Homo sapiens: one gene and its partners. The protein of the gene in region 5 purifies or fractionates together with the protein of the main gene of each other region. This does not show direct contact. Each region holds a gene or a part of one and is shown on either strand. Other genes may lie near its edges. The genes, in order: ECHDC1, PYGL, COPZ1, NAA15, DUSP28, QNG1 and ETFA.

Region 1 (4,167 bases), on a different chromosome or scaffold from region 5:
AAATAAGGAGGAGGGACTTATAAAAGCATTAGCATTTTGTGGGAAAGTAGAATCAGTAAACAACATATCTTCTGCTCTCATTGTAAAGGGTCTGTCTGCTCTGTCTTGATACATTACCCCTCTCTCCAACATCAACACTACAGCAATTAGTATGAACGCCATCAGATCTATATCCTTTTATCCTCAAATCTTTAAAACATTAAATATTTAAGTAATAGTAGTATTTTGCCTCATTAGACATCTTTGATCCATCACTGAAATGCCAATTTTTCCAAGAAAATCTTGTAATACTTCATGTATCCTTTCTCTATTAATTCCATATTTTCTATCTTCTCTCATTCTATTCCCTCCCACTACTGTCTCTCCTTTTCTCTCCTCCTCTTATATTCCTTGTCTGTGCCAGAAAAACCTGAGAACACTGCTTAAGCCTGCTAGATTCACTGACCCCAAGTTTAGAAATCCAATTCTAAAAATTTTATAATAGCCTATTATGTACACTTTCGTCCCAGTTCTAAATTCAGAGACTATCTTAGACAAAAGCTCAGTGATGAGATGACAAGGTGTTAGTCATTATTAACCTACTATAGTATCTAATAGTATAAAGTGAACAAAGCTTAAGATTCAGGTTCTGTAGAAGTATGTAGTTAAACGATTGGTTTTTTTTGGATTTCTTCCAGAATCACAGGAAGATGAAAAGGTTCTGAAGCATTTACAATTTTATAAGCTTTCTTCGGGGTAAAACTTATGTTTAAAACTTGCCATGCAGGATGTCTTGCAGCCCCACCACAAAGAAGATTCAGTGGAGCTGAACAAGCTCACTACCAAGCCACTGAAAAGAGGAAAGAAAGTCCATCTGAGATCAAAGGTCGCACTTCCCATTTTTTTCAAGTTCTGCAAAGGTGATCTGTTTCCCTTTAGTGCACAGGAAATAAGTGAGATGTTCTCTAAAAGCCTTTACCTGTTTCACCTTATACTGTAATCACTAAATCCAGAAGACTAACGCAAACTCATACTTAAAAAGAAAACAATTAGCCTAGAGCACGTAATAGAAATCAGAAGCATTTGATTTCAGACTGTCTGTATATCGCCTGTTTGTAAAAGTTCTGATTCGGTTGTAGGCTGTCATAACATAAACTACCTTTCAAGGTTCATTACATGCCACCCACAACTCTCTCCCTCACACAGCCAAAATGCACAACTTTCAGTTCCTGAAATCCTTTTGATTTTTTCGCCATCTCAAGCTTTCGCATATGCGATCTACCTGTTACATTTTTGTCTTCCTCAGAGTAACTTCAAATCATCTCCTCTAACATAGGACTACATAAAGTCCCCTTATTGTCTGCTCTCAGAACATCTGTATCTCTCATCACCACTCTCACTCACTCTTTGCTGTAATTAGTTTTTTAACCAGTTCTTCCCATTAGTCTTAGCTGCAAGAGGGCATTTGCAGTGCCTAAAGATAATATTCTTAAGACTAAACAGGGGCTTAAGAATCTGGCCACAAATCAACTCTCCAACTACCCTGTTTATAATCCTCACAACTCACCCTGTTTCAATGCCATGCTTCTTCACAGGCTGGCTTCCCTTCCTGGAATGTTAATCATTGCAGGAATCCCAGCTGATTATACAGTCGCCTTTCAGGCCAGAACCCAATAAAAAATCAAGAAAGGATCGCCCGTTCTATTACTGCGCTGCTCCCTCCCCTCGTAGATTTCACAAATATACTTCTCACCACAAGCTTGTCTGTTCCAAGAGAATGCTAGCTCTTCTAAAGAAGGAGCCCTTTGTTTTCCTTGCCCTTGTCCAGTTCCTCTGCATACCTCTAGCACCTAGAGCAACAACTGCTATACAGGAGCCCAGATGTGGAACAGAGCAAAGAACTGAGTGTTGATTTAATGTTGCCTGAAGTCCTTAACAGCACCTTCAACCTAAACTTAACTGTGTTTTTAATCCCCTACACGTGTAATCCCTGTATGTGTGCGCAGCGTTAAAAGGATTATTGTAGCTCAAAAATTCTCCAATGAAAGAACCTCTACCAGAAAGGAGTTGCTCATCTTTCGTTCTTGAAAAGTTGGCTGCACGATACAAGTAAGAAAAGTTTTAGTTAGGCAAGACAACTTATACATAAAAGACAATTATAGGGAACATTACCTAACTTAGCACAGGGCCTCGAATGTATTCCGAAATTAAATCAGCATGTAGAAAGCAAGCCTCCTCATGCTTTTTAAAGTGTAATCTCGCGACCTCGCGGCGCGCTCTGGGAAGACCGATTCATCTCTTCCCCTCGCCCTCTTTCCCCGGCCGGCGCACAGCCGGCCCGTGGCGCTCGGCACCGCGTCTCCACGTCCAGCGCGGGGCAGGCCTGCGCGGCGCTTGCAAGGGACAAGCCGCGGAGCCGGGGAGGCTCGCCGTCTGGGACACGTTTGGAGAAGCGAGCGGTACAGTCCATTCCACGGCGACATTTTAGGATTCTCCCACTGACAACACTAAACTGAAGCGCTAAGACCAACCCTTACGACCACTTACCGTCGCAGGCCACGGTGGTGACTTCCTTTTCCGCTCCCCTACACACGCTTTTCCGTTTTGCGTGCCTTTGTTTCCGCTCCCCCCGGGACCATCGTGCGCCCCTGTCCTCCGTTCTTGTAGGTCCTCTCCTCTTCTCCGCGTCTTCTCTTTTACTATCCCACGCTCTCCTTTCCTTTCTCCGGGAACTTTATCCCGTTCCCCTGCCGGTTCCCGTGACCCCGGAAATCCCGCTCCTGCCGCGAGGCGCCCTCCGCTTCGCGCTCCCTCGTGTCACGAGGGAGCCAGGGTGGGCGGTCTCCTATTGTACTTGGCTTTTGAATTTTCGCTTTTGCAGCACAAAGGTAGGGCTGGGAAAGGAGGCTGCCGAACCGTGCTTGTTTTCGCTCAGATAAACGTGAGAAAAAGTGGAGGTGAGGAAGCCAGTGTAGGCAAATAGCGAGAGGGGAGAAGACAGAAAGGTACCGAAGGTCGACCTTTTTTAGGTATCTTATCCAAGTTATTGAGGGGAATGGGTATTTAGCCAGTTTTTTGTTTGTTTGTTTTTATCCGAATATCCAGTGTGTGTCTTGAATGTGTGAATGTGACGTGTTTATAAAGCTCAGTAAGCTTAAAATTCCGTGCCAATACATTTTGTATGCCGCAGACAGGAAGTGCTTTGGAAGACCCTTGAAAGGGGAGGTGATTTTACACCAATATTGAGATCATTTTGTCAGAGTCGTGGGACTAAAGGTAGACCTTAGGTAGTCGATGTCAAAGATAAGCGCAGCTGGACGTTAAAGCGGTGAAAACATTCAGTTAACTACTGACAGGAAAGAGCTGAGCTCTATTTCGATTCGTGCAGAGATCATCTGGGCATTTTTAAAGGGACGTTTTAAAAGGAGAAAGGGGATATGCGGGCGCTCAGTAGAGAAAGTGAACCTACAGAGTTGTTAGTGTAAATGTGATTAGGCCAGCTGTGTGTTTGTGTGTGCGCGCGTTTTAACAGTTACCGCAGGATTCTATCCTCCTACGGAGGATTTTATCCTTCTCGATTACATTTCAAAGGAATGACTCTCTGGTCCTTGAGAGAGAACTTCTGAGTGGCAAGAAATAAGTCTTTACAATTGCAAGCCCTTTAGTAAACGTTCTAAGAAAGGGATGTCAGAGACCTATCATCAGTTGTGTGCTGGTTACATCACGTAGTTAAGCTTTCTGAGGCAGTCGCCCTGGGCACAGGGCCTTATGCTGCTAAAGCTTGCTAGAGTTTGGTCAAGTCTCTGAACGCAGGGGTTTAGATGGGATGGTCATGTTCCTGGAGTTCTGCAGTGGTCATAGGTATGATTTGAATAAGTACAGGGAATATTCTAGTCGGAGGAACAGAATGTGCCAACGCGCCGAACAGGGAGGATAGTTTTACGATACGGAGATGTGTATGATAGGGAATAAGTGGGAGCCCAGTTTGGACTAATTGGAAGAAGTCATTATTAGAAGTACTGTATTTAATTCTAGTTTGTTATAAAATGAGACTCCAAGATCACTGAGCCATTTCACTGAGACTCCAAGATCACCCCAATGCTAGGCTAATCTCCATGGCGCCTAGATCTATGCCCACTCCATTCCCCATGTTGGTCCCCATAGTTTCAGGCACCAGGCTCCAACACC
Region 2 (3,500 bases), on a different chromosome or scaffold from region 5:
GTGTTTGAACCAAAGTGACTCCATCTTGAATAGGAGCTGGGTAAAATAAGGCTGAGACCTACTGGGCTGCATTCTCAGAACGTTTGGCATTCTAAGTCACAGGATGAAATAGGAGGTCTGCACAAGATACAGGTCACAGAAACCTTGCTGATAAAAGGTTTTCTTTGCCTCCTTTTTAATGATTCCAAATTAGCATGGACTTAAGATATTTAAAAATATTTCAAAATCTTTTCTTTTTTTATTTTAAAGACAAAGTCTTGCTCTGTCACCAGGCTGAAGTGCAATGGTCCAATATCAGCTCACTGCAACCTCTACCTCCTGGGTTCAAGAGATTGTCCTGCCTCAGCCTCCTGAGGAGCTGGGACTACAGGCATGCGCCACCATGCCCAGCTAATTTTTCTATTTTTAGTAGAGATGGGGTTTACTCCATGTTGGTCAGGCTGGTCTCGAACTCCTGACCTCAGGTGATCCGCCCACCTCGGCCTCCCAAAGTGCTGAGATTAGAGGCGCGAGCCACTGCGCCCGGCCCCTTTACTTTCTTAATAAACTTGCTTTCACTTTACTCTATGAATTTGCCTCAAATTCTTGTGCGAGATCCAAGAACCCTCTCTTGGAGTCTGGGATGGTGACTCCTTTCTGCTAACACTCCTATAGAGATGTATGAAGGACTAAATAAAAGTGTTACTGACAACAGGTTTTGGCAAAGCACTATTTTTGGCGAAGTAATTCAGTATTTTTTACCCCCGGGGAGAAAAAAAGCAAACTCATCTAAGTAGATTCAATGTTTTGTGTTTTTTCCCTCTCCTGATCATGAACCTCATGAATAAAGCATAGGTTTTGGACAAACAGAAGTCAGACGGCCATAGCTCACCATTCATTAATAAAATATTTATAGGGCACCTTGGTGGGTGCCGGTAAGCTGAGTTGGCTATGACTATCTCAAGTCATCCAAGAAACACAAAGATTAACTCCCACACACCGCATGGGTAGAAAATATTCCTCCTTGGCTGATTACTGTAAGAAATTTTACAGTTTAATTAATTAATTAATTTATTTATTTATTGATGGATTGATTGAGACACAGTCTCCCTCTGTCGGCCAGGCTGGAGTGCAGTGGCGCAATCTCAGCTCACTGCAACCTCTGTCTCCTAGTTCAAGCAATTCTCCTTCAGCCTCCTGAGTAGCTGAGACTACAGGCGCCTGCCACCATGCCCAGCTAATTTTTGTATTTTTAGTAGAAACAAGGTTTTGCCATGTTGGCCAGCCTGGTCTTGAACTCCTAACCTCAGGTGATCTGCCTGCCTTGGCCTCCCAAAGTGCTGGGATTACAGGCGTGAGCCAAGCGCCCGGCCTACAATTAATTTTAGAATCAAATTTTTCTATAAAGTCTATTTACTGGCAAGTTCCTTATGAACAAGAAGACTACCTAAGGTTTATTGGTGTTTGTTCTTATTGAAATTGGAAATTTCTCTATTGACTTAGACATTATTTGCCTTTGACATGGTAAAAGTCAGGCAAATATCATCAGAGTTGAAGGTGAGAGGTACAAAGTTCAGACCTGCTGAAAACCTTCTTTATATACAGCACAGTTTACTAATTAAAAAAAAAAAGCACCAGTGAGTAACTTCATTGCCCCCTTTTACAATATCTTATTCTCCAATCATCTATCCTCTCTTCTCTACTAGACACAAAACAAAATGGCAAAAATCTGTAAATGCACCAATATAGTTACCTCAAATTTTAGGGATTGCCCCATTTCCATAAGATAAGAAGTAAAAAAAGAAAAAATAATAATTTGGCCAATCAAAAAAAATTGTGAGTAGAATTCAGTATAATAAAGGCGTATTATCATATTTAACATACTAGTTACACATAAATATTTAAAACAAAATATTATTTGAAAACGTCAACTTGGAAATTTCATTCTTTCCCATTTTCCTTTTATGAACAATTGAGTTCTAAATTTCACAACAAATGGTCAACATCCATGACCTAACGGGCCACCTAACACTGCTTTCCAGAACACATCATCTTCGTTTTCATCCAAGTTGTTTGAATGTCTATAATGCTGTTACTAGAACCCTCACCAGCTATTAGATACCTTCGAATGATTGGATAAAAGTACCTTCTCTGGGGCAGACATAGGCAATGGCTGGTGCTCTAGTACGTGATGACCGCTGTCACAGGTAATAGTATCTTAAGCCACAAATACCCATTTGCATAGTATTACCCAGTTTAAAAAAATCCTTCCATGTGTGTATTTTCATTATCTCTATAACCATGATGTTTTGCCTTTTTCTTTTAAGTAATCTACAAAAAGCTTGTTTATATAGTATATATTCCACACTTGCAATTGTGAGGTTATACCCCCAGGAATAATGACTACATCTGTATTAAATTTGCCTCCTTTTTAATGATTCCACATTAGCACGAACTTAAGTCTTCTTAAAAATATTTCAAAGTCTCTCTTGAGAGATATGTGGTTGCTCAGAATAAAGTAAATGAGAAAATACTTCCTTGCATGACAGACTTTATAAGGACAGGAACGTAAGGTGATTCCCTGTTTTCTCACAAATAACTTCTTAGAGGTAATCTCTCCTTATATTTGGGAATATATAAGACTTCAAAAAATAGATCTTGGCCATACTCTTACTTACTGGTCTCTAAATATTTGTTACATATGACTGATAGTAAAATATATGAGCATCTCCAATATACTTTATAAATTACATGCATGTACTATGATTACTAGTATTTTATGTAAAAAGTGGATATTTTCAAAAGGCTTGTAAAATAAAATAAAGAAGATATAACAAATATTTTTAAATTGTATGTTTTATTTTTATCCCCAGCATTAGTCAGAGGGCCTGGGTACTTCCGGGAAGACCTCTGGAACACCTGTCAATAAACCTGAGACTTGCAGGACAGGCAAGAGTTGAGCATAGAAATGTGGTAGGAAGGACACTGCAAGTGAATCGGGGGCCCAGAGTGGGGATTGGTTTGTTGGGAGAGCAAGGTGGGTACAGAGGGTAATGGAAGATAACAAGGGAAGAACAGGCCCACCTGGACTGAGAAGTGCTTTCGAATACTTGCTTAAGTTCTATGGCAGGCAAGAGGAGCCAATGATAATTGAGCAGGGGCAAGATGCGTTGCTTTAGGAAGCTTGAGCAGACCACAATGCACAGAATGAGACGGGATCATATACTCAAATGCCTTCAGGAGCTAGGCAGAGAAAATAAATGTGTAATTGAGGTCACATAAAACAAAGAAGAGTACTGGGCTAAGAAATGGAGTGTGCAAGTCCTGACCACAGGCGCTAAAAATTAAATTCCTGAAAAATGTCTTGGCCAACAAAGTATGTCTGCTATCCTTATTCAGCCTCAGGCTGCCGGTTTTACCACTTCTGGAAAGCAAAATAACCACGTGAAGTCAGCTGCAACAAATGGGTAGCTAGAGCCTCACCAAGGCAGGAAGAGATAATGGAGGAGAGCACGTCATTC
Region 3 (3,216 bases), on a different chromosome or scaffold from region 5:
CCCATCAACTCCCCGCTTTGTCTTCTTAGGCTGCTGTTGCAGCAGTTTATTTCTTCAAATTAACATGCTGTCGTTACCCATCAGGCTTTGCGGGATCCATTAAACCACTCCTGGCTCCCCCTCATCCTTTCCCTAGTGATACTGATATTCAGAAAAGGCCTTTTCTGACTAGGGAATCAGGTCCTCCACCCCCACGTTAAGGGAGTTGAGGATCAGATAACCTGCTGGTTACTCTGAATGGAGTTAAATCTTTTAAGAAGTCCTCCTGCCTTAAAATGGAAGCTGGATGAAATGACCCTTTTTTGTTCATAGTCCCTCTGGCCAAGTAAAATTGTAGCTGTACTAGTCCCTAGAAGGGACTGAGAAGTTCAGTGCATCTGCCCTTTGTTTCAGTTTAAAGGATCACTTTTTTCTTCTCTAATACCAGACTCCAATCAGGTCTTACTCCAGCTTTCTCCCACACTAAATGCTTGTATCTCTGTGCCATAGGGTGAAGATGTCCCCCTTACGGAGCAGACCGTGTCTCAGGTATGACTCTCCCTTCTTCCTTTCCAGATGGACTGGGTCACTAAAGAGGCTAGAACAGCATTCCACCCATACCTCTCAAATCTGAGTGAAACTAGAGACTCAAGACACATCTTCCTTGGCTCCCTCTTATTCCAGAGAACTGGGACTCATACAGCCAGCCACTCCCTACCCCTACTTCCAACTCCTTTCTCAGTTACCTGTGAGCAGTGGCTGTCAGCCTTGCTCTGTACCCTTCAAACCCTCCCTGCCTGCCTGATGCCTCATTCAGTGATTTATTCCCCAGCAGAGGCTTGCCTTAAGCAGATGGTCTGTGTGCATTTGTGCACACACACTCTCTTTCTCTTATTATTCAATTGAGGGCTAAGCTGGAAATGCATATTCTAGAATATGCAGGTTTTGCAGATCCATCTTGCTACCTTGACTGCAGATAGATTGTCTACCTGATGTAGGGGGAAGGGAGGGGTTCCGTTTTCTACCCACTTGGAATTCTCACCAAGAAGTCCATCTGGATTTGTTACCCGCCCCCTGCCCGCCGCCCCTTTTAACATATGTCCAGTAACTCCCTTTTTTTTTTTCTTTTATACCAGGTATACCTCTTCTCTCTTCATCCCCTCAGTGGGTTTGAATTTTTTTGGAATTTTCCAAACAATCTGCTAGGGCCTTAGAGAGCTTCTTCCCATCTCTTTACCCTTGGGGATTTTCTATTCTCCATTCTTCTAAGGACAGGGAAGACAAGTGAGGGGAAGGAGATCCCCAGCCCTCATCCTTACCCTGCCCTGTCAGCAAGCTTTCCTCAATGCTGCTCTTATCTCTGCAGGTGCTGCAGTCAGCCAAAGAACAGATCAAGTGGTCACTCCTTCGGTGAAGACCTCACTGTTCCTGGCTCTTCATCCTCTTCAAAAAATTTGCATGTCTGCTGTGAATTTTCATCTAGTTCCCCAATCGATGCTCTCAGGGTCATCTCGGGGATCACAGGGATCCTTAAATCTCCATTCTGTTTGTGGTTGCCCCCTCAACCTCCCCTACACCCTTCCTATTCTTTTTCATTCTTCTTGCAGTTCTGGGAGTAAAGCTCCCAGCATATTTAGATAATAGGGCAGGGGAAGCACCCTCTTTCTTTCTAGACTGGATTATGCTCACATGCTCCCTTGCCCTGACATTTTTGTAAATTCTGTGCCCTTTGCTGTAGCTACACTTCAGATTAAAGTAGGAGAAAGAATGTGCTGAGTGTTTTCCTCCCTTTGCCTCTACCTGGCCCTCATCCCAACAGCCCAGCAAGGGGAGAGAGAAAGAGAATTCTTTTCTATAGAACGAGTGGGGGCGGGGATGGGTAGGGATTTATCCAATCTAAGCCCTAACCCCACTTAGTGACCTCAGTGTTTTCTTCCATTCCTTCTTACTGCCCTGTCCTCTGCCTTGGAAGAGGCTTTGGGAATAGTTCATAGGGAAGGGACAACATGGAAGAAACAGCGATTTAAATTGTATTGAACAGGGCATATAAAATGCATTCTGTACCCTGATCTGGCATATAGCTTCAAAACTGCAGTGGCGAGTGTCCATCTCTTAGTTAGCTACCTTAACTGTCCACCCTTACTACCTGTGGGATCGTTGCCTGGTTTGTCTTCTCTGTGTCCTGGAGCAAAGCCAGTTCCTAAAACTAAAACTCCATTCTAGTCTTGGGAAGAAAAGTTTCTACTCAGAACTGGGGAAGGAGTGGAACTTATGACTTGGGCCTCTAGGCTGTCTCTGTCCCCTCAGCTCCCCGACATGCATTTACTCTCTGCCGTGGGTCTGCAGTCGCTGCAACCTACCCTCTCTCTGCCTCAGCCTTACACCCAAGCAGTAGGTCTGTGCTCTCCCTGTCTCTAGGTCGCTGAGAGAGGTGCTTTTCTTCATAAAACCTTTGGGGTTTGGATTTCCCCAGGAAGATGGAGAATGGAATACTCACTCTTGGGTCTAATCTTTCCCCTTGACCCAGAACTTCCTCCCCACAAAAATGCCTTTAAAAACCTTCCTGAGACTTAAGCATTCTGCCCCACTTACTAACTGCCAGTTCTCCAGCACTGAGGTGGGGCAGATAACGGGGCATATTTAAGGGGGCATCTTTGTGTAAAAGATGCATGGAGTCAGGAGAAAACCACCTTCATAAACTGCTCTGTGCAAAGAGGAATAAAACATTTTTTCCAAACTGCCTTTGTGTGATGTTTCTGTTTCTCTTCCTCTCTTTTTGGCAGCTACTCCTGTTCCTCCAGCCCCCCGTCATTCCCCATCTTATAATATTTCTTCCCTCCTACCTCAGAGACTCCTAGCAGTGCCCCCCCATCCCTAATTTACGGGGCTGTTTGCCTCCTTGGCATCTCTCCGTCCCCTCGCCTGGAAATTGGCGCCAGGGGTGGGGTGGGGATGGTATTTTCTCAGTGGGAGTCCCAGGGAACTGAGTTCTTCCCCCATCACCCCCAAAGCCAGCTGCCTGCTCCCGCCTCAGCCATTAGTAACCCAGAGACGCGCACCTGCGTGGGGGCTCTTCTCCAGCCCTTGCTCACTTCCTGCACCTCCCACTCCTGCTCTGAAACGGCGCTGAGCGGGTTATTTATCGGAGCCAGCGCTGCTCCAGAAGGTCAGGACGGTGGTGTAAATAACCTCTTCTCGCCATTTCCCCGTCCCTCCAGAGCCTGCTCCCCTCCCCCT
Region 4 (3,500 bases), on a different chromosome or scaffold from region 5:
GGGCAACAGTGAGACTCCGTCTCAAAAAAATAATAATAATAATAATAATTTACTTATTATACAATGTATACAGCCACCTAATAAGTATTACTACTCCTTTGCCTAACAATTCCCTCACCCTCCTCCTACACCCCTCCCCTAAATAGTTAAACACTAGGCAGGTGTGATGTTAAGTGCCCTGAAAAGAAAAAAAGTTTTATTCCAGACTGTAACTAACACTAGCTGTTGACCTTAATCTCAGTCTGTTTGCTTAATAAAAATGTCCCCACCTTGAAAAGTTTTGAGAATTAAGAAAGGACTCTAAATAAAGCATGCTGTGTCCAAAACGGTAACCATTCACCACATGTGACTATTTGAATTTAAATTAAGATTAATTAAAAATTCATTTCCTCAGTTGCACTAGCCATATTTCAAGTGTGCAATAATTACATGTGGCCAGGCCAGGCACAGTAGCTCACATCTGTAATCCCAGCACTTTGGGAAGCCAAGGCAGGAGGACTGCTTGATCCCAGGAGTTCAAGACTAGCCTGGCCAACATGGCGAAACCCCGTCTCTACCAAAAATACAAAAATTAGCCAGGCGTGGTGGCACGCCTGTAGTCGCAGCTACTCGGGAGACTGAGCTAGGAGGATAGCTTGAGCCCGGGAGGTGGAGGCTGCAGTGAGCCGTGATCAAACCACTGCACTCCAGACTGTGTGATAGAGTTAGACCCTGTCTTAACAAAAACAACAAAAAACAAACCTACACATGGCCAATGGCTATCATATTAGAGCAGATAACAAATATTTCCATCATCACAGAAAATTCTACTGTGCAGTGCTATTCTAAAGCACCTAGAGCAGAGCCTGGCAAATGGTAGATTTCTCATTTTACCTGGCAAATAGTGACAAATCACAAACATAATCATCATGCTATTTTAACTTCTCTCACCACTTTTCTAGGAAAGAAAAATTCTGTCCTTTAACACTTACAACTAACAATTTAAATCATTCAGGCTAAAGTCCAAAACTACATTTATTGATGTACAATATTTTAACTATTCCCAACTTAGATTTTTCTTATAACTGACATTAACATTTGAAGAGCAAAAAAGAGAGAAGGAAGCAGCAGCAACAGCAACCAACCTACCAATACTTGATTGAAAGGCATTAGGATATGTCCATCTTTTCCAAGCAGGTTAAAATCTAAGGTGTGGATTTTGTTCTACTCTGGCAACCTCATTTTTCCTACCCTTAACCTAGATCCTAACAAAGTGGTATAAATATCTGGTAACCTCCTCAAACTTTTAGATAAACAAATAGCATCAACAGTAGGCAAAGGCCACAATTTTCTAATGACTTAATTTTCCAAATAAGTTAAAAGTTTGTAATTACAAACAAAACAAAACAAAACAAAACAAAAAAAAAACCAGACCAAAAAAAAAAAAACCAGCTTCTGGCAAACACAAGTCTTCCTTAAACTCTTACATAGGACCAGGTGCAGTGGCTCATGCCTGTAATCCCAGCACTTTGGGAGGCCGAGGCAGGCAGAACACTTGAGGTCACTAGTTCAAGACCAGCCTGGCCAACATGGTGAAACACCATCTCTACTAAAAATACAAAAAAAAAAATTAGCCGAGTGTGGTGGCAGGCGCCTGTAATCCCAGCTACTTGGGAGGCTGAGGCATGAACCCAGGAGGTGGAGGTTGCAGTGAGCCAAGATCACACCACTGCACTCCAGCCTGGGTGACAGAGCAAAACTGTCTCAAAAAACAAACAAAATAAAATAAACTCTTACATAGTATATGTCACATTAAATTCATCCCATCCTTTTTCTAGACAAATTATCAGCAAGAAACATTATGCAAGCATTTTGACTAACTTAGGACAATGCTTTAGTCAGAAAACAGAAGAGTAATATTGGAAAAAAGAGAAAAATATACAACAAAACTGAATTTTAGAGATCAACTAGACTAGATCAAGCCAGGCAAATCCACTGCAGAAACTCTAAAATTTTTGCAAACTTATGTGTAAAGCAGGTTTCCATTAAAAATTTAAGGAAAAAAATGTTTATTTTGAAATACAAACTAACTGTATTTCCTACTTAAGTTTATCATAACAAGTACAGTACAACTAACAAAGTAGCAGCTCAAAAGTTGAATGCTGCAGGAATGATTTAACAAGTTACCAAGCAGCCAGGAGCAGTGGCTCAGGCCTGTAATCCCAGCATTCTGGGAGGCCAAGGCGGGTGGATCACTTGAGGCTGGGAGTTTGAGACGAGCCTGAACAACATGGAGAAACCCCATCTCTACTAACAATACAAAATTAGCTAGGTGTGGTGGCACACGCCTGTAATCCCAGCTACTCAGGACGCTGAAGCAGAACTGCTTGAACCCGGGAGACAGAGGTTTCGGTGAGCCGAGATCATGCCATTGCCCTCCAGCCTGGGCAACAAAAGCGAAACTCCGTCTCAAAAAAAAAAAAAAACAACAAGTTACCAACCTAGCAACACTTGATTACATAGAGCACACACATCACATTATGTCCAACATTTCCTTTATCAGACCGGGCAAAAAAAAAAAAAATCTTAAAAGCACTAACTTACTATCAAATCTCAAGAAACAGAAGCAATTTCAAAAAATCAATACTATCCTTTTGGTCAGTAACACTTTCTTCATTCCTAATGTATGAGAACAATAAGGACATTTTAGCTCCTTTACTCTTCCTTCATTTAGTGACTTCCACATTTCTCTCACATATAACTTATCAATAGATCTTCAGCACTGTGATTTTGGCAATAAACTTACAGGTTTTTGCCCCACTAACACTACCACAAAAAAATTAAGATGTTTAATCAAAAATTGCTATTATATGGATGGTTAAACACACTGTGGTACATCCATATCATGGAATACTACTTGGCAATAAAAAGGAATAAACTATTAGCTGGATGTAGTAGCCCTGTAGTGATCCCCCCTACTCCGGAGGCTGAAGCGGGAGGACTGCTTGAGTCCAGTAGTTTGAGGTTACAGTGCCCTTTTGATAGAGCCTATAAATAGCCACTACACTCCAGCCTGGGCAACAGAGGAAGACTCTATCTCTAAACCCAAAAGAATGGCAAAATTATACAAATAGAGGACATGTACCGGTTGCTGGAGCCTGCAGCGAGAGGGGATGGGAGGGCGGTGGGAGAGATAATGGATGTGGTTCTAAAAGGGCAACAGAGGGGGGTACTTTGGACTGAAGGAACTTGTTCTGTAGCCTAATTGTAGTGGTGCAATCTATACATGGGATAACGCTGCATAGAAGTAAATACAGTCAGCTCTCATTATCCTTGGTGTCTGCATCCATAGGTAAAAACTATTTTTAAAAATACAATAAAAAATACAAATTTTTAAAATACAGTATAACTATATAACAGTAATATTGCATTAGGTATTATAAGTAATCTAGAGATATTTAAAGTATACATTCGCATAGGTTATATGCAAATACTACACCACTTTACATAAGGGACTCAAA
Region 5 (4,300 bases):
ATTCCTGCAGAATTCTGTCAAATCACCTCAAGAGATCAGAGATTAAGAAAGTGACAATGGGCGGGTCTCCCTTTGGTTCCTGCTGCTCTGGTCATGTCTGTAGTGAGCTGCGTGGGAGCCGTGCTATGGAATAAAAAGTATGGTGACATTTGGTACCTGAAAGAGGATTCCAGCTCACAGCATTGTGTTTGACATACTGGTGTTCATCATCTTATAACAGTACCTCATCCCCATTAGTCTGCTGGTCACTATGGAAATTGTGAAATATATTCAGGCCCAGTTTATAAACTGGGATCAAGATGTGCATTATAAAGTAAATAGTGTCCACACCATGGCCAGCACATTCAATCTCAGTGAAGAACTTGGGCAGGTAAAATTTCTATTTTCTGATAAAATGGGAACCCTCACTTGCAATGTTAAGACATTTAACAAGTACCACTGCAGGTGTCATTTATGGTGCAACACCTTCCATCCGAGCCCTGATATTTTAATTACCCCAGTTTATTGGAGAACATTGAGAATGGCCATCCCACAGAAAACTATATAGACCAATTTCTTACCCTGTTATCTGTGTGCCACACTGTTATCCCTGGAAATATTATAATCTACCAGGCTTCCTCCCCGGATGAAGCAGCTTTAGTGAAAGGAGCAAAAAAACTTGGCTTTGTTTCCCTACAGGAACACCATACTCTGTCACCGTAGAAGCCATGGGTGAAAAAATCACTTTTGAAATTCTTAATGTCCTGGAGTTCTCTAGTAATAGAAAAAGGAGGCTGGGCACGGTGGCTCACGCCTGTAATCCCAGCACTTTGGGAGGCTGAGGTGGGTGGATCACGAGGTCAGGAGTTTGAGACCATCCTGGCTAACATGGTGAAACCCCCCATCTCTACTAAAAATACAAAAAATTAGCCGGGTCTGGTGTCACACACCTGTAGTCCCAGCTACTCAGGAGGCTGAGGCAGGAGAATCACTTGAACCAGGGAGGCGGAGGTTGCAGTGAGCCGGGATTGCGCCACTGCACTCCAGCCTGGGCAACAGAGACTCTGTCTCAAACAAACAAACAAAAAAAAAGAAAGAGAGAAAGAAAAAGGATGTCCGTAATTGTCCGAACTCCTATGGGACAGCTCCAGCTGTATTGCAGAGGGGCTGATGAAGAGAATAATTCCCCAATCACCCAAGTTGCCCTTCAACAATGTCTTCATCAACAGCTTTCTTGATCTAAATGTCCCACGTGGGTATGCATTTTCTCAAACAGAAGCATCCGTGGTCACGCAGGAAGAACTAGTCCGTTCTTATGACACTACTAAAAATAAACACAAGAAGAGTTGCTTTTCCTGATTTCACCTATGACTCAGATTCTGATTACTGTAGTCTGTACTCATGTCCTTCCCTGAGACTGGTAGAATGCGCCGGCACCCCCAAACACTCAAGATTCTGGAGTGTAAATAATGGAGGATCCCTATTTGCTTTTTCTTAATTTGTCTTCGATGTTTTACCAAATGTATTTCTTTTTGTGTCTGTAAGATAATTTGTGCATCACCTCAGCCGGAAATATAAAATTAAAAGCACTATGTTTCACACACACACACACAAAGGAAAACTCGATATGACAGTGAGGAAGAAGGGTAAAGACCAGCCTTCTGTATCAGTGCAGGGACATCCTTCCTCCAGGCAGCAGGCCTTCAAGCTTCAAGCCTCAGGGCCCAACCCTAAGGCTGGGGGCTCTCCCTGCAGGCAGGACTGGGCCTGGAGGGCCTCCTCATACTTCTGGAGCTGAGACCAGAAGCCCGGGTTCGGTTCTGCTACCGGGCGAGCGCTCTTCACCATCTGCAAACAAGAAGTGTACTGAATAACCCCAAGTCGCGCTAATGGCCAGCAGGGGCCAAGGCGGGCCCAGCTGTAAGAGTGGGCCCCGCCCAACCCGGAAGTGCCTCTCTGCTTCCCTAAGCCCGCCCTCACGAGAGAGACCCGCCCCTCCCGGAAGTGCCTGTCCCAATCCCGAAGCCGGCCCCGCCCGGAAAACTCGTCCCCGGAAGACACGCCCCTCTCGAAACACCGCCCCCCTAAAGGCCCGCCCACCTGGAAGGCCTTCGCCAGGCTGAGGCCGCGGTGCCGCATGAGGTACGCGGTGCAGACGGCGGCCGAGCGGCTGCGGCCGTTCTTGCAGTAGACTAGGCAGGCGCCGCCGGCGCGCACCGCGGCCTCCATGGCGGCGCACGTGGGCTCCAGGTGCGCCAGCAGGTCCTCAGCCGGGTCGTCGAACACGGGCACGCGCAGCTCTGCCACGCCGGGCGCGCGCGGGCCGGGCTGCTGGCGGGAGACGTTGACGCACAGCGTGACTCCCGCGCGCGCCAGCTGCTCCTCCGCGCCCGCGGCTCGCGCGCTCCCGAGGAAGAGTGAGGGCGCGACGCGCACCAACGGTGGAGGTACGGGCGAGGCGGCCCCGCGGCGCCCAGCTTCTGCCGGTCCCATGGCGCCCGCCGAAGAGTCTGCTTTTGGGCCCTGAGGATCTATTTTGGGGGCTCAGGCGCCCGCCCAGGAGTCTATTTGTGGGAGCCGGGCGGGCCGCCGGGCGCCCCCGGGTCCTAGAGGCCTCCGAGGTGGACCAGGCTGGGGCTTGGGTCCCCCGCGGGCGCTGGGCCGGGACAGGGGGCTTGGGTCTCGTTGGGGCCGGGGCATGGCGGGAGGTTTGGGCCTCACCAGGGCGCCGGGGCCTTGGACCGCTCTGCGTCCCATGTTCTCTGTCCCCGGGCGCCGTCCTCCCCGCCCCCGCGGCCTGTGGCACTGGGCTTGCGTCTGTGGCTCTTGGGCGCAGCGCCCTGCCCGCTCTACTGCGGCGTCTGGCGCGGAGGCGTGGCTTGGCCGGGCCCGCCCACTTCGCGTCCGCGTCGTTCGGCTAGGGCCCCGTGGCTACCCGGTGCACGTGGACGGCGGGCTGCGTGGTTCCCGTGTCTTCACCCTTTCCCTAGTGACTGCGTTGTCGGCTTTACGTTTATTCCTTTTTGTGGCCCGCTTTGTAATTGGTGCATTTTTTTCTATGTATTATAACACATGGCTCATAAAATAAAACTAATTTCTATTTTCATCACTTCTTCATAGACCACACTATTCCTTTTGCTGTTTCTAAGTAATTTATTGGGGTCAGCATTGTAACTTTAAAAAATTTAATATCACTTAATGTCCATGAAATTGCCATTTAAGACTCCTTCAATTTTTCTGACATCTGGTAATTTTCAGGCAATGGATACACTGAAAAGCAACTGTCTCAACAGCCCTACAGACATTTAGCAATTGAAGTTTCAGTTGCATACAGTCTCTCTCTGGGTTATCGTCATTGCTTTGTCCATCAGCCTTCTAGCATTGGTAACTGTCAGATCTTTATTGCAGCCTGGGGTTCACTCTTGAGCTAAAGACTCAAATATGTCTGCAGCCAGGTCTTCCCTGGTTGCAGCTCCAGACATCACCTCCGTGGAGGTCTTATCAGCATCTGTTTCCCACTTCCTCCACCCTAAGGAAGGACTCCAACTTTCCTAGGATGGAGGAGTGGAATTCCCTTTTTTTCCCTGGCGTTCATGGGAGCCATTGATTAGGTTGGGACACTGTCTCCCTCCGCTTTCTAGGAGTTGGCTCTGTCTCTGGCCAAAAGTGAAGGCCACACTCCCGTGACTGCTCTGGGAATGAGCTTGGTGTCTAATAACCCATGAAGGAGAGAGCACTTTGGAAGGCTCCTCTGTTCTCTCATGGCCATAAGGGGAAGCCAGCCTTGGGTGAAAGCAGAGGAGATGGGAGAGCCAAGGTCCTTGATGCCACTGTTGGGCCACTGAAATGAATCAAACAAAACCTGAAGTCCCTCCTCCTCCTGGACTGTTTCATGAATCATCATCACCCTTTACGGTTGGAGGATGGTTGAGGTGGGTTTTCTGCTCCAAAGCCTGCTACTTGAACCATCATGCTCCCACTCCATTGAGGTAATGGATTGGGAACCAATTCATCCTAAGTGTCTCTGCATCTCATTGCCACACTTAGTCTGGGCCAGCCTCTGTCTCCTGGACTTGGTGCTAGTCCCCCACAGTGTAACCAGAATGTGCTTGCTAAGAACAGAGGGTTTCTACATGTTGGTTCTGACTCCTTAGCAAGTTGTAATTCACAACTAATGTGGGTTGTGAAATCAATTCTGTGGGTCATGATCAGCATTTTAGTTTTTAGAGAAATAATAGACTACATGAAAATATTAGAGTGCATGCATGTAGTATGCCGAACTTTTAATGAAACATTTTTCTGAGTGGTTTGTACTGGGTCG
Region 6 (3,500 bases), on a different chromosome or scaffold from region 5:
GGCAGGAGAATGGCTTGAACCTGGGAGGCGGAGGTTCTGGTGAGCCGAGATCACGCCACCACACTCCAGCTTGGGCAACAGAGCGTCTCAAAAAAAAAAAAAAAAAAAAAAAAAAAGAAAGAACACTGGACGATGGAAACCACGTAAGAGAATACTCAGAGACAGGAATGAACAGTGTGTACAAAACAAAAAAAAAGCAGCTTAATATGGCCATATGAAAAATAAGCCCTGATTGCTAAATGTTGTCCCTTTTAAAGGTATCCAACAATTAGTGACCCTTGACATGGGCATGATGACAAAAAATAGCATGTTCTTTTTCAAATGAGGAAATGGAAGACAAAACAGATTGCCCATGGCAGCATAAAAACCCAGTAGAGCCAACCATAGGAATAATGGTACCTTTATATTCTGTGTTATTCTGATCTGGGGGATTCAAATCTATTTCACAAGAGGAAATTATTCAATCATAGAATCTACTTCTTTTAAAAAAATACATAAGGCCGGGGTGGTGGCTCACACCTGTAATCCCAGCACTTTGGGAGGCCGAGGTGGGTGGATCACAAGGTCAGGAGATCGAGACCATCCTGGCTAACACGGTGAAACCCCGTTTCTGCTAAAAATACAAAAAATTAGCTAGGTGTGGTGGCGGGCGCCTGTAGTCCCAGCTACTCGGGAGGCTGAGGCAGGAGAATGGCCTGAACCTGGGAGGCGGAGCTTGCAGTGAGCCAATATCGCACCACTGCACTCTAGCCTGGGCAACAGAGTGAGACTCCGTCTCAAACAAACAAACATAAAGAGGCCAGGTGCAGTGGCTCACGCCTGTAATCCCAGCACTTTGGAAGGCTGAAGTGAGAAGACTGCTTAAGCCCAGGAATTCAAGACCAACCTGGGCAACATATTTTTTAAATAAAATAAAATAAAGAAAAAAGTAGCAGAAAATTTTGCACCTAAAAGAGAAATTAACATGAAAATCATATAATTATTTTCCTCATACAAGGAAATGTTATAAGCTAATTTTCACACAAACTTTTCAACCCAATTTACCTAAGCTTATATATCATAAGGCTCCTAGTCTTGATATCAATAATCATATCCAATAATGGCGAATAAGCCTAAGGAAGTGAGTGACTTGTGCAAGATATCCCAGTGCAGACCTTGGAGTCTCTTCACTCAAAAGCCAATTCATATTACCTATCTTTCAACCTACCTTCATATAACCATGTAGTGTGCTCTTCAGCTTAACACTCTTCAAATACTATAACTGATGAACTATCAGTGTTACATACTTTCATGTAACATAAATTTAGGTTTCATTAGGCTATGAAATTATAATGTTCAAATAGCACAATTTTCTACAATATCCACATTTCACAGTGTAAACAAAAAGAAAAATCATTTTCTCTACATTTTGTCTTTGCATTTTCCTTTTTACATATACTATGAACAATAAATAGTACTTTTTTTTTAAAGCAAAGGAGACCTTTTGTAAAAGAAACTAAACCGAGATCCAACAATTCATAGTATAACAAAGAATGACTTAAAGTTGCAAACCTTTGAGAAGCTTCTTCAGTAGGTCATCAGAGTATTTCAGGGCTCCAAGATGAGCAAGAACCTGAGGTAATCTATAATCAGCAAACATGGTGATACTGGAGATGTCCTTGAAGCAGCCATCTCCTTTTCCTTCCAATACACTCCACGTATCTGCTACAAGGATTTGGGCTCGTTTGTAAAAAGAAACTCTTTTCCCCTGATGAATGAAGAGAATATAAACGTTATTTGAGTATCTGAAAGCTTTATATATGCTATTTTTTAAAGGTGCAGTTGAAACATTTTTTAAAAGGCAGAATAATCTTACTTTGTTGGTAAGAATTTATAGATTGGCCGGGCACCATGGCTCCCGCCTGTAATCCCAGCACTTTGGGAGGCTGAGGTGGGCAGATTGCTTGAGCCCAGGAGTTCAAGACCAGCCTGTGAAACATGGCATAACTCCAACTCTACAAAAAAAAAAAATTAGCTGGGCGTGGTGGCACACATCTATGGTCCCAGATACTCAGGAGGTGAGGTGGGAGAATCGCATGAGCCTGGGAGGTCAAGCCTGCAGTGAACTGTGATCACACCACTGCACTCCAGCCTGGGTTACAGAGGGAGACCCTGTCTCAAAAAAAAAAAAAAAAAATTCATAGATCTTTTACAAGAAACAAAAGGATTTAATGAACATTAAATTTTCTATCACTCCAAACTCGCTTCCCATTTTTCAAGGCACATAAAATACAATTTATGTAATCTTGATACTACTTACTATTCTTTTTCAATGGCATTACTTCATATACAGATTTCTGCAATATAATCCTAGGGCTTATTATTATTATTATTTTTTGAGACGGAGTCTTGCTCTGTCGCCCAGGCTGGAGTGCAGTGGTGCAATCTCGGCTCACTGCAAGCTCCGCCTCCTGGGTTCACGCCATTCTCCTGCCTCAGCCTCCCGAGTAGCTGGGACTACGGGCGCCGTCACCACGCCCGGCTAATTTTTTGAATTTTTTTAGAAGAGACGGGGTTTCACTGTGTTAGCCGGGATGGTCTCGATCTCCTGACCTTGTGATCTGCCCGCTTCGGCCTCCCAAAGTGCCGAGATTACAGGTGTAAGCCACCGTGCCTGGCCCAAGGGCTTATTATTTTAAATGTGTAGATAGCATTCCTTTTGAAAGTTTCTTAAATTAAAACACGTCTGTTTTTCTGATTGCAATATAATTCACATTAATTGTATAATATACAGCCAAGTATAGGCCAGGCATGGTGGCTCACGCCTGTAATCCCAGCACTTTGGGAGACTGAGACAGGAGGATCACGAGGTCAGGAGTTCGAGACCAGCCTGGCCCATATGGTAATACCCCGTCTGTACTAAAAATACAAAAATTAGCTGGGTGTGGTGGCGATCGCCTGTAGTCTCAGCTACTCAGGAGGCTGAGGTAGAAGAATTGCTTGAACTTGAGTGGCAGAGGTTGCAGTGAGCCGAGATCGCACCACTGCACTCCAGCCTGGGCAACAGAGCAAGGCTCTGTCAAAAATAATAATAATTAAAAAAAAATACAGCAACATACAAAGAATAATCATCCATAAGCTCAGGTCTGAAGAGAACCACAACATTCATTTTTAACTGTTTCCTTTCAGATAATATGATTAACTTATTTTATGAAGACATTAATTGATCAACAGCTAGAAAATGATCATATTTACCAATTTTGGAAATGCTCAAAGTTGATATGTAAGTCCAAATATGAAAATAAAATAGCCAATTATATTTATACATAGAAAAGACAAATTTAACCAAGCATTAGTGGGTTATAATTTAACTAAAAAATTCTAGCTAAGTGTGGTGGCTTACACTTGTAATCCCATCAATTTGGGAGGCCAAAGCCAGAGGATTGTTTGAAGCCAGAAGTTCAAGACCAGCCTGGAAAACGATGAAACTCCATCTCTACAAAACACGGCGAAACCCTGTC
Region 7 (3,500 bases), on a different chromosome or scaffold from region 5:
CCTCTGACACTCCTATACTTCTATAAAGCATTCAACACTACTATGATTACCTAGTTAACTAATTGTGTAATTAATATGAGTTTTTTTCCCACTAGAATAAAAACTCTTTAATTTCAGGATCTATATCTATCTTGGTCACTGCCATATCTGCAATATTTAGCAAAACTCTACATATAATAGATGCTCAATAAATTTCTCTGAATGACTGAATAAAGTTATTATTTGAATGGGAGTCATCTCAAGGACTTTAAACTCCTCGAGAGGAAGAACATTCTGCCTTTTCATCTGTTTCTCCAGCACTTGGCAATAAGCCTGTCATAGAACAGATAACCAATATACATTTCTTGAATAAATAAGTGAATAAACAAGTCAGGGCCCAGCTCGGTGGCTCACACCTGTAATCCCAACACTTTGGGAGGCTGAAGTGGGCGGATCACCTGAGGTCAGGATTTCGAGACCAGCCTGACCAACATGCAGAACCTCCGTCTCTACTAAAAATACAAAATTATTATTTTTATTTATTTATTTATTTATTTTTTAGGAGGAGTTTCACTCTTGTTGCCCAGGCTGAAATGCAATGGTGCGATCTCGGCTCACTGCAACCTCTGCCTCCCAGGTTCAAGCAATTCTCCTGCCTCACCCTCCTGAGTAGCTGGGACTACTGGCATCCACCACCATGCCCAGCTAATTTTTTGTATTTTTAATAGAGACGGGGTTTCACTATGTTGGCCAGGCTGGTCTCGAACACTTGACCTCGGGTGATCCACCCGCCTCGGCTTCCCAAAGTGCTGGAATTACAGGTGTGAGTCACCGCGCTGGGCGTAGTGGCACATGCCTGTAATCCCAGCTACTCGGGAGGCTGAGGCAGGAGAATCGCTTGAACCTGGGAGGTGGAGGTGGCGGTGAGCAGAGATTGTGCCATTGCACTCCAGCCTAGGCAACAAGAGCGAAACTCCATCTCAAAAAGAAAAAAAGAAAACGAAAAACAAGTCAGATATATCACTTCAAAATATTAATTTTTTTTTCTCAATGATACTTGCAATAGAAGGCTGTCTGAAAGCTTATTTTGTTGGATGTTTAATTGCAAGGATTTAAAAAGCATAACAGTCCTTATTTTTTCAAAAAGTTAGTCAGTGGGCCATAAAAAAATCATTGTTTTTAAAGACAAGGAGCATGATGTATAAAAATAAGCATGTCTTATGCAATATTAACAGTTTTGATATTAAATGTTAAGAAACTTTTTAAAGAGTTATACACAAAGACATGGACAACTCTGGAAATCTTTCCAAGTGGAAAGAAGGGTAGGAATTATACACAAGATGGCCCTGAAATTCAAGCCAGTTCTATCTATAATTGAGAAGCCAACCATACTCTGCAGAATTCATGGAAGTCCATCAATAAGATGGCACCAAGTGGCAAAGTTATGCAGATAAGATTTATACCATGCTCCCCCTGGTGCCAGTGACTAGGTGTGCAACAGAAACCCCAAACTGTGTATTATGCTCATAATTTCATTTTCCTAATTGGTTAAATGGGAATAATATCCCAAACTTCCCAACTTCTTACATTTGAAAAAGATCTGTGTACTTCTAAAATAAATACTAAAAATAAAAAAAAAAATCAAAGTATTTTCAATTTACATCTTTTAAGATTAATATTTCACTTACCACCAGATACCACCACTTTGGCACCTGTTAGCTCTGGTCGATCACTTTTTGTTAATTTCTGGTCAAGCCACTCTGATATTTCCACTGGTGAAGTACTTGATGCTGCATACATTAATACATAATAAAACAATGACTATGATTTCAAGTTCTATAACAAGAATTATTTTCAAGAGAAACACACAAGTATATAATTCCACGAAATTTAAGTTAATTACTGTGAATTTTCAGTGCTCCTAATTAATTCTCTCTGATAATGGAAAGACTTAAGGAGACTAGATTCCAGCCTTTGCCACATTAGCTGTATGACTCCAGAAATCATTCAATTCTCTGAGTCTGAATATAGAATAACTTTCTTTCTATGAGGTTCAAATAAGACACTATATATGTTAAAGTGTGACACCCTCCACACGTTTCCTATTACATTCTTCTGTTATACTGAATCACCCAAATATAATAGGAAACAGTGACAAGAGTAAAAAAGCTTAATCTTAATAGATCCTCTGTCTCCCACTCCCTTGATCTACCAAAGCAACTATCCTAGTACCAAAGATAATGTGAAAAAGATGTAAGTTATACATATTTATTATTTTTGTATAAGCTTGGGAATATCATTTAAATTGAACTTTCAAATACTATTCATTAGAAATGTAGGCAGAGGTCATCTCTTATTATAATACAGTCTATGAATTAAAAAAGTAAGAAACAAAACAAAAAAACTCCAAATGAACACTCACCCTTTTCTGAACTGGCACTACCGCCACTTGTTGCTGCAGCATCAAAGGATGTTCCACGGACAGAAAACACTTTCACTTTCTCATCACACTTCACTGTACATAGAGCATTTCCTGAAACATACAATCTATTTCTTAAAAGCAACAGCAAAAGGCAACAAAACTAGCACTCCTTTGATGCTTGGAATTTACTTCACAGACAAGGCAAGAAATAACTATTGACCAGTTGTCTTCTAACTCTATTAAGTATAGGAAAAAATGAACCATAACGGTGAAGAAACATATCAGCAGATATCTGTATAACCCTGGATGTCTTTAAAAGCAGGACAGGTACTACCACACCTAGAAGGAAGAAACTCGAACAGGCATCCACACTAAGAAGGTACACTACACCTCTAAAAGGAATATGAACAAAGCTTCCTTCTCCAAAAACAATACAATCAGTAACTCAAAACTATGAGCTGCAACAACTTAGGAAGAATGTAGCTACTGTGCATGCTAAAGGAGGAATATCTTGAAAACACAATAGGTCATAAAGAACAGGTATGAATGTGCTAAGATTTTAAGAGGATTTGAGACACTCTGGATTAGCTATCACATTAACAGTAACCTAAACCATGACAAAATATTTTCCCTCAAACATTATGGAAGATGAAAAGTCTAATTTCAGAATTAGCCATTCATACTGGAATACACAACTTTAATCAGGCAAAAAACGAAGAGTTCACTGCCTTCTCCGACCCCACTAGAGACCAGTGTGCTAAGCAAAAAATCAACTGAAGAGACACTGAAATGAATTTCTTTTCTTTTTCTTGAGACAGGGTCTTGCTCTGTTGCCCAGGCTGGAGTGCTGTGGCATGATCACAACTCACCATAGCCTCGACCTTCTGGCTCAAGCAATCCTCCCACCTCAGCCTCCCAAGTATCTGTGACTACAGGCATATGCCAACATGCCTAGCTAATTTATTTTATTTATTTATTTTTGAGATAGGGTCTTATTATGTTGCCCAGGATAGCCTCAAACTCCTGAGTTCAAGTAATCCTCCCACCTCAGCCTGCCAAAGTGCTGGGATTATAGGCACGAGCCACTGCAGCTGGCTAA

The links.
Region 1: the proteins of DUSP28 (region 5) and ECHDC1 purify together in Homo sapiens (affinity purification with mass spectrometry, with the first as the bait; one large-scale study listed by BioGRID). This does not show direct contact.
Region 2: the proteins of DUSP28 (region 5) and PYGL purify together in Homo sapiens (affinity purification with mass spectrometry, with the first as the bait; one large-scale study listed by BioGRID). This does not show direct contact.
Region 3: the proteins of DUSP28 (region 5) and COPZ1 purify together in Homo sapiens (affinity purification with mass spectrometry, with the first as the bait; one large-scale study listed by BioGRID). This does not show direct contact.
Region 4: the proteins of DUSP28 (region 5) and NAA15 purify together in Homo sapiens (affinity purification with mass spectrometry, with the first as the bait; one large-scale study listed by BioGRID). This does not show direct contact.
Region 6: the proteins of DUSP28 (region 5) and QNG1 purify together in Homo sapiens (affinity purification with mass spectrometry, with the first as the bait; one large-scale study listed by BioGRID). This does not show direct contact.
Region 7: the proteins of DUSP28 (region 5) and ETFA purify together in Homo sapiens (affinity purification with mass spectrometry, with the first as the bait; one large-scale study listed by BioGRID). This does not show direct contact.

Annotation. Positions count from the first base shown.
Region 1 is NC_000006.12:127,340,810-127,344,976, forward strand, and holds the start of ECHDC1 (ethylmalonyl-CoA decarboxylase), read right to left. Parts: upstream 2,801-4,167; 5' UTR 2,527-2,800; intron 1,599-2,526; exon of another isoform or gene 1,563-1,598; coding exon of another isoform or gene 1,547-1,562; intron 851-1,546; exon of another isoform or gene 678-850; intron 1-677. UniProt on the Homo sapiens protein: Decarboxylates ethylmalonyl-CoA, a potentially toxic metabolite, to form butyryl-CoA, suggesting it might be involved in metabolite proofreading. Acts preferentially on (S)-ethylmalonyl-CoA but also has some activity on the (R)-isomer.
Region 2 is NC_000014.9:50,937,984-50,941,483, forward strand, and holds part of PYGL (glycogen phosphorylase, liver form), read right to left. Parts: intron 3,223-3,500; exon of another isoform or gene 2,818-3,222; intron 1-2,817. UniProt on the Homo sapiens protein: Allosteric enzyme that catalyzes the rate-limiting step in glycogen catabolism, the phosphorolytic cleavage of glycogen to produce glucose-1-phosphate, and plays a central role in maintaining cellular and organismal glucose homeostasis.
Region 3 is NC_000012.12:54,349,131-54,352,346, forward strand, and holds the end of COPZ1 (coatomer subunit zeta-1), read left to right. Parts: intron 1-489; coding exon 490-528; intron 529-1,345; coding exon 1,346-1,393; 3' UTR 1,394-2,716; downstream 2,717-3,216. UniProt on the Homo sapiens protein: The coatomer is a cytosolic protein complex that binds to dilysine motifs and reversibly associates with Golgi non-clathrin-coated vesicles, which further mediate biosynthetic protein transport from the ER, via the Golgi up to the trans Golgi network.
Region 4 is NC_000004.12:139,304,505-139,308,004, reverse strand, and holds part of NAA15 (N-alpha-acetyltransferase 15, NatA auxiliary subunit), read right to left. Parts: intron 1-3,500. UniProt on the Homo sapiens protein: Auxillary subunit of N-terminal acetyltransferase complexes which display alpha (N-terminal) acetyltransferase (NAT) activity. The NAT activity may be important for vascular, hematopoietic and neuronal growth and development.
Region 5 is NC_000002.12:240,558,857-240,563,156, reverse strand, and holds the start of DUSP28 (dual specificity phosphatase 28), read right to left. Parts: upstream 2,801-4,300; 5' UTR 2,473-2,800; coding exon 2,080-2,472; intron 1,828-2,079; coding exon 1,690-1,827; 3' UTR 1-1,689. Other genes in the region: ANKMY1 (ankyrin repeat and MYND domain-containing protein 1), read left to right, coding at 2,207-2,426. UniProt on the Homo sapiens protein: Has phosphatase activity with the synthetic substrate 6,8-difluoro-4-methylumbelliferyl phosphate (in vitro).
Region 6 is NC_000009.12:83,943,243-83,946,742, forward strand, and holds part of QNG1 (queuosine 5'-phosphate N-glycosylase/hydrolase), read right to left. Parts: intron 1,748-3,500; coding exon 1,552-1,747; intron 1-1,551.
Region 7 is NC_000015.10:76,283,970-76,287,469, forward strand, and holds part of ETFA (electron transfer flavoprotein subunit alpha, mitochondrial), read right to left. Parts: intron 2,513-3,500; coding exon 2,402-2,512; intron 1,770-2,401; coding exon 1,668-1,769; intron 1-1,667. UniProt on the Homo sapiens protein: Heterodimeric electron transfer flavoprotein that accepts electrons from several mitochondrial dehydrogenases, including acyl-CoA dehydrogenases, glutaryl-CoA and sarcosine dehydrogenase.